2 separate regions of the Homo sapiens genome follow, and region 1 is linked to region 2. The links come from fine-mapping of genetic effects on gene expression. Tissue or cell type: esophagus muscle. Region 2 holds a variant in brackets; the other region holds the start of a gene. All regions are shown on one strand. Distances are between the middles of the regions.

Evidence for each region. PIP is the estimated chance that this variant, and not a neighbour inherited with it, causes the effect.
Region 1: it holds the start of AOC3, and the variant in region 2 is the best candidate, but not a certain one, in a credible set for the expression of AOC3 in esophagus muscle (GTEx, PIP 0.74).

What each region holds. Positions count from the first base shown.
Region 1 is chr17:42,849,626-42,852,378 of GRCh38, forward strand. It overlaps AOC3 (amine oxidase copper containing 3), which reads left to right and starts at 1,574. Exons shown (of 4, transcript NM_003734.4): 1 at 1,574-2,753. The coding sequence starts at 1,719. AOC2 (amine oxidase copper containing 2) reads left to right here. Exons shown (of 4, transcript NM_009590.4): 3 at 1-105; 4 at 457-1,082. The coding sequence ends at 723.
Region 2 is chr17:42,662,002-42,664,775 of GRCh38, forward strand. It overlaps TUBG2 (tubulin gamma 2), which reads left to right. Exons shown (of 11, transcript NM_016437.3): 5 at 972-1,051; 6 at 1,376-1,502. Among named protein-coding and RNA genes, the nearest start is that of TUBG2, 4.1 kb to the left of the region's middle. The variant T/G (reference allele first, on the strand shown) is at 1,183.

The DNA of each region.
Region 1 (2,753 bases), 190 kb after region 2:
AAGGAGGAGGAGTCACAGAGCAGTAGCATCTATCACCAGAATGACATCTGGACACCCACAGTTACCTTTGCTGACTTCATCAACAATGAAACCCTCTTAGGAGAGGTTGGTTGCCCTAGGGACATAGGAAAGGGACACCTGTGGGCATGGCATCTTGGCTGCCCAGCCTCTGGCCAAAGGTTAGAGGGAATGGCTGATTTCCAGTTCGCAGATTCAGAGGCCATGGAGTTTTCTGATGACCAACACAGGTCATCCCTCCTGGGGTGAGATTAGCTCTGGGACACTGGCTCCCCCCTCTCCCCGCACAGCTGCTTACATGGATTGCTCCACGTGTTGTATGGGCATGAGGCTGGGGAGAGTGGAAGCCAGGCTGAGACTGGAGGCTGGGATTGTGACTGAAGGGTGGTTCTTTGGGTCACGCTTCCATAGTCCTCCAGCTCCTCCTTCTTCTTGCAGGATCTGGTGGCTTGGGTCACAGCCAGCTTCCTGCACATTCCCCATGCCGAGGACATCCCAAACACAGTGACTCTGGGGAACAGAGTTGGCTTCTTGCTCCGACCCTATAACTTCTTTGATGAGGACCCCTCCATCTTCTCCCCTGGCAGTGTCTACTTTGAGAAGGGCCAGGATGCTGGGCTCTGCAGCATCAATCCTGTGGCCTGCCTCCCCGACCTGGCAGCCTGTGTCCCGGACTTACCCCCTTTCTCTTACCACGGCTTCTAGTCCTGAGGGTGTGGCGGGCGGCGTGGTTAGGCACATGTACTTTTCCCTGTTTCTACTTTCTATTCTCCGTGTTTTTATCACACCTGCTCCCCAGATTCCCACCCCCTCAATGTTCCTCTCACACGAAACCCCCATCAGTCCCTTTGGTTAATTCTTACTTCCTGTTCATCTCTAAAGTGTTAAATTATAAAAATGATTTTTAAATATTCAAAGAAAAATATCACAAATCCTACTACTCAGAAATAGGTGGTCACATTACATCAGACATCTCTTTATGCATGTGCATTCAAAAGGAAGAGTAGATAGAATTTTGTAAAACAGATGTTGTATGTAATTTATAATAAAAAGTATTAGAGGAATTTTACTTGAATTTATTGTTTGACCTGTTAAGTATCTAGAGTCCTCTGGAGAATACTAAGGAGTCTGGCCAGGGAAATTAGCGCTGGGGGCCAGAGGGCAAGGGGGATAGACCTGGCCAAGGAATGTCATTTGGAAAGCTAAAGGGGCAGGGGGTGGGGGTCTTTGGAAGGAAAACGATAGTTTGAAGTTACAGGAAAATATCTGGCCCTGACTAAGTGGGGGACTGGGGAAGAAGCTGGGCTGAGGTCAGGAGAGGCTGCTCTGCACAGATCCTGCTCCTTCCCAGTGCTGCATTATCTTGAAATTTTCCTTCCCCTTCCCCCTAGCCCCAACTCTCCCCAACTCCAACCCTGACCCAGAAAGTAGAGTGATTTGGAGGCTGGAAGACAAAACCATGTAAGGTCTGTGGAAATCACAGCTGTTCAGACCCGCCTCCAACCCCGGCCACCCCGCCCCCTTGCCCTAGCCTTCCTGTGTCCTTCCCACCCTTAGTCCCAGGCATCTGACTACCGGGAACCTCAGCCAGAGTCCGGGAGCCCCCCACCCCGTCCAGGAGCCAACAGAGCCCCCGTCTTGCTGGCGTGAGAATACATTGCTCTCCTTTGGTTGAATCAGCTGTCCCTCTTCGTGGGAAAATGAACCAGAAGACAATCCTCGTGCTCCTCATTCTGGCCGTCATCACCATCTTTGCCTTGGTTTGTGTCCTGCTGGTGGGCAGGGGTGGAGATGGGGGTGAACCCAGCCAGCTTCCCCATTGCCCCTCTGTATCTCCCAGTGCCCAGCCTTGGACACACCCTGGCCAGAGCCAGCTGTTTGCAGACCTGAGCCGAGAGGAGCTGACGGCTGTGATGCGCTTTCTGACCCAGCGGCTGGGGCCAGGGCTGGTGGATGCAGCCCAGGCCCGGCCCTCGGACAACTGTGTCTTCTCAGTGGAGTTGCAGCTGCCTCCCAAGGCTGCAGCCCTGGCTCACTTGGACAGGGGGAGCCCCCCACCTGCCCGGGAGGCACTGGCCATCGTCTTCTTTGGCAGGCAACCCCAGCCCAACGTGAGTGAGCTGGTGGTGGGGCCACTGCCTCACCCCTCCTACATGCGGGACGTGACTGTGGAGCGTCATGGAGGCCCCCTGCCCTATCACCGACGCCCCGTGCTGTTCCAAGAGTACCTGGACATAGACCAGATGATCTTCAACAGAGAGCTGCCCCAGGCTTCTGGGCTTCTCCACCACTGTTGCTTCTACAAGCACCGGGGACGGAACCTGGTGACAATGACCACGGCTCCCCGTGGTCTGCAATCAGGGGACCGGGCCACCTGGTTTGGCCTCTACTACAACATCTCGGGCGCTGGGTTCTTCCTGCACCACGTGGGCTTGGAGCTGCTAGTGAACCACAAGGCCCTTGACCCTGCCCGCTGGACTATCCAGAAGGTGTTCTATCAAGGCCGCTACTACGACAGCCTGGCCCAGCTGGAGGCCCAGTTTGAGGCCGGCCTGGTGAATGTGGTGCTGATCCCAGACAATGGCACAGGTGGGTCCTGGTCCCTGAAGTCCCCTGTGCCCCCGGGTCCAGCTCCCCCTCTACAGTTCTATCCCCAAGGCCCCCGCTTCAGTGTCCAGGGAAGTCGAGTGGCCTCCTCACTGTGGACTTTCTCCTTTGGCCTCGGAGCATTCAGT
Region 2 (2,774 bases):
ACATCACAAATTGAAAATATTGACTAGGCACAGTGGCTCATGCCTGTAATCCCAGCACTTTGGGAGGCCGAAGCAGGTGGATCATCCGAGCCCAGGAGTTCAAAACCAGCCTGGGCAACATGGTGAAACCCCATCTCTGCAAAATATACAAACATTATCCAGGCATGGTGGTACATGCCTATAGTCCAAGCTACTTGGAGGCTGAGATAGGAAGATGCCTTGAGCCCAGGAATTCAAGGCTGCAGTGAGCTATGATCACACCACTGCACTGCAGTCTGGGGGACTGAGTGAGATCCTGTCTCTAAAACCAAAACAAATTTGAGGACAGGTGCGGTAGCTCATGCTTGTAATCCCAACACTTTGGCAGGCCGAGGCGGGCAGATCACTTGAGGTCAGGAGTTCAAGACCAGCCTGGCCAACATGGTGAAACCCCGTATCTACGAAAAATAAAAAAATTAGCCAGGCGTGGTGGTACATGCCCGTAGTCCCAGCTACTTGAGAGGCTGAGGCAGGAGAATGGCTCGAACCTAGGAGGTAGAGGTTGCAGTGAGCCAAGATCGGGCCATTGCACTACAGCTTGGGTGACAGAGCAAGACTCCGTCTCAAAAAAAAAAAAAATTGAAAATACCGTAAGTAGAAATGCATCAGGTTATAACCCAATAAGCCCATCATGAAGTTGAAAAATTGTAAATTGAACCATTGTAATTCAGATGCTTCTTGATTTAAGATGGGATTATGTCCTGATAAACCCATCATAAAGCCAAAACATCTTAAATTAAACCATCCTAAGTCAGGGACAGTCTGTAGGTAGTCCAGAATTGAAGTGAATTAGTGGATACCCAGCTGGCATCTACTGTAGAATTGACTGCTTACCTGATGTGTGTGGTAAGACCCCACCCATCTGGTATCAGAATTGTGTTGTGAGAGTGTGGCAGGAGAAACTGAGTCTGTTTATTCCTGTATACACACAGGGCTTCGTGCTGTGTCACTCCATCGCTGGGGGTACGGGTTCTGGCCTGGGCTCCTACCTCCTGGAGCGACTGAATGACAGGCAAGCCTGTGTTTGGGGAGAGGGCATTAACCCTGGTTCCCTGAGTAATGTCATTGCTTTTTTCTCTTGAGCTAGAAAGTCTGCCACTACCCCTTTTGAGTCATAGGGACAGACCCACCCAAGGACCATGT[T/G]GGAAGCTATTTTGGGGGGTGGGGGTTTACCTGTGGAGGGGAGGGGATCTACAGAGTTTGAAGCTTTCAGGCTTATCCTTTTTGGCTCTGAAGACTCAGTTCTGCCCTCACCCCTTTTGTACAAAATGGCACATATGGGCAGTGATGGAGGGGTCCTTCCGGTTCACTATGCCACCATCCTCTTTTCTCTCAGGTACCCCAAGAAGCTAGTGCAGACTTATTCAGTGTTTCCCTACCAGGACGAGATGAGCGACGTAGTGGTTCAGCCCTACAATTCACTCCTGACACTCAAGAGGCTGACGCAGAACGCAGATTGTGTGGTGAGCAAAGAAAGAGTTGAGGGGCTGGGTGTGGTGGCTCATGCCTGTAGTTCTAGCACTTTGGGAGGCCTAGGCAGATGGATTGCTTGAGCTCAGGAGTTCAATACTAGCCTGGGCAACATGTGAAACCCTATCTCCACAGAAAATACAAAAATTAGAGCTGGGTGCGGTGGTTCACACCTGTAATCCCAGCACTTTGGGAGGCTGAGACGGGCGGATCACCTATGGTTGGGAGTTCGAGACCAGCCTGACCAACATGAAGAAACCCCATCTCTACTAAAAAAACAAAATTAGCCAGGCGTGGTGGCGCATGCCTGTAGTCCCAGCTACTCGGGAGGCTGAGGCAGGAGAGTTGCTTGAACCTGGGAGGTGGAGGTTGCAAGGAGCTGAGATTGCAGCATTGCACTCCAGCCTGGGTGACAGAGCGAGACTCTGTCTCAAAAAAAAAAAAAAATTAGCCAGTCCTGGTAGCATGTGCCTGTAGTCCCAGCTACTTGGAGGCTGAGGCAGGAGAATCACTTGAACCCGGGAGGCAAAGGTTGCGGTGAGTCAAGATCACACCATTGCACTCCAGCCTGGGTGACAGAGCGAGACTCTGCCTCAAAAAATAACATAAAAAAAAATTAGCCGGGCATGGTGGCATGTGCCTGTAGTACTAGCTACATGGGAGGCTGAGGTGGGGGGATTGCTTGAGCTCAGGAAGTCGAGGCTGCAGTGAGCCATGATCACACCACTGCACTCCAGCTTGGGCAACGGAACAAGACCTTGTGTTTAAAAAAAAAAAAAAAAGGGTAGAGGACTTTGGTCTGTCTCCTCAGGCCAGTGAGTCTCATTCACCCCACCTTTCCTCAGCCCCTATACACACAGACAGAAGACCAACAAAGCCATACCTGTGGGCCAAATTAGGAAATAAGGTCCTGACTTCTAAGTTTCTTAGAATCCTTTTAGGCAGCAAAACTCTCAACAAAGTGAATATACCTTCCCCACACCACCACGTATCCCACCTTTGCCTACTTAATGCCCACTCATGCTTGTATTCTTAGCTCAAGGATAACTTTCTTAGCAAAACCCTTCCTGACTACTCAGTCAAGATCAGATTCCTATATGTGTATTTTAGGGAGTTAACTATAATTTTCTGTTTTATATTTAGTGTGCCTCCCTCCACGAGACTATAGGCCTAATGAAGGGAAAGACGGTGCCTGTTCCTCTCTGTGGTCTTCCCAGAGCCAGGCACAGTGTATGGCACATGTGGGTACTCACGTGTTTGTTTAC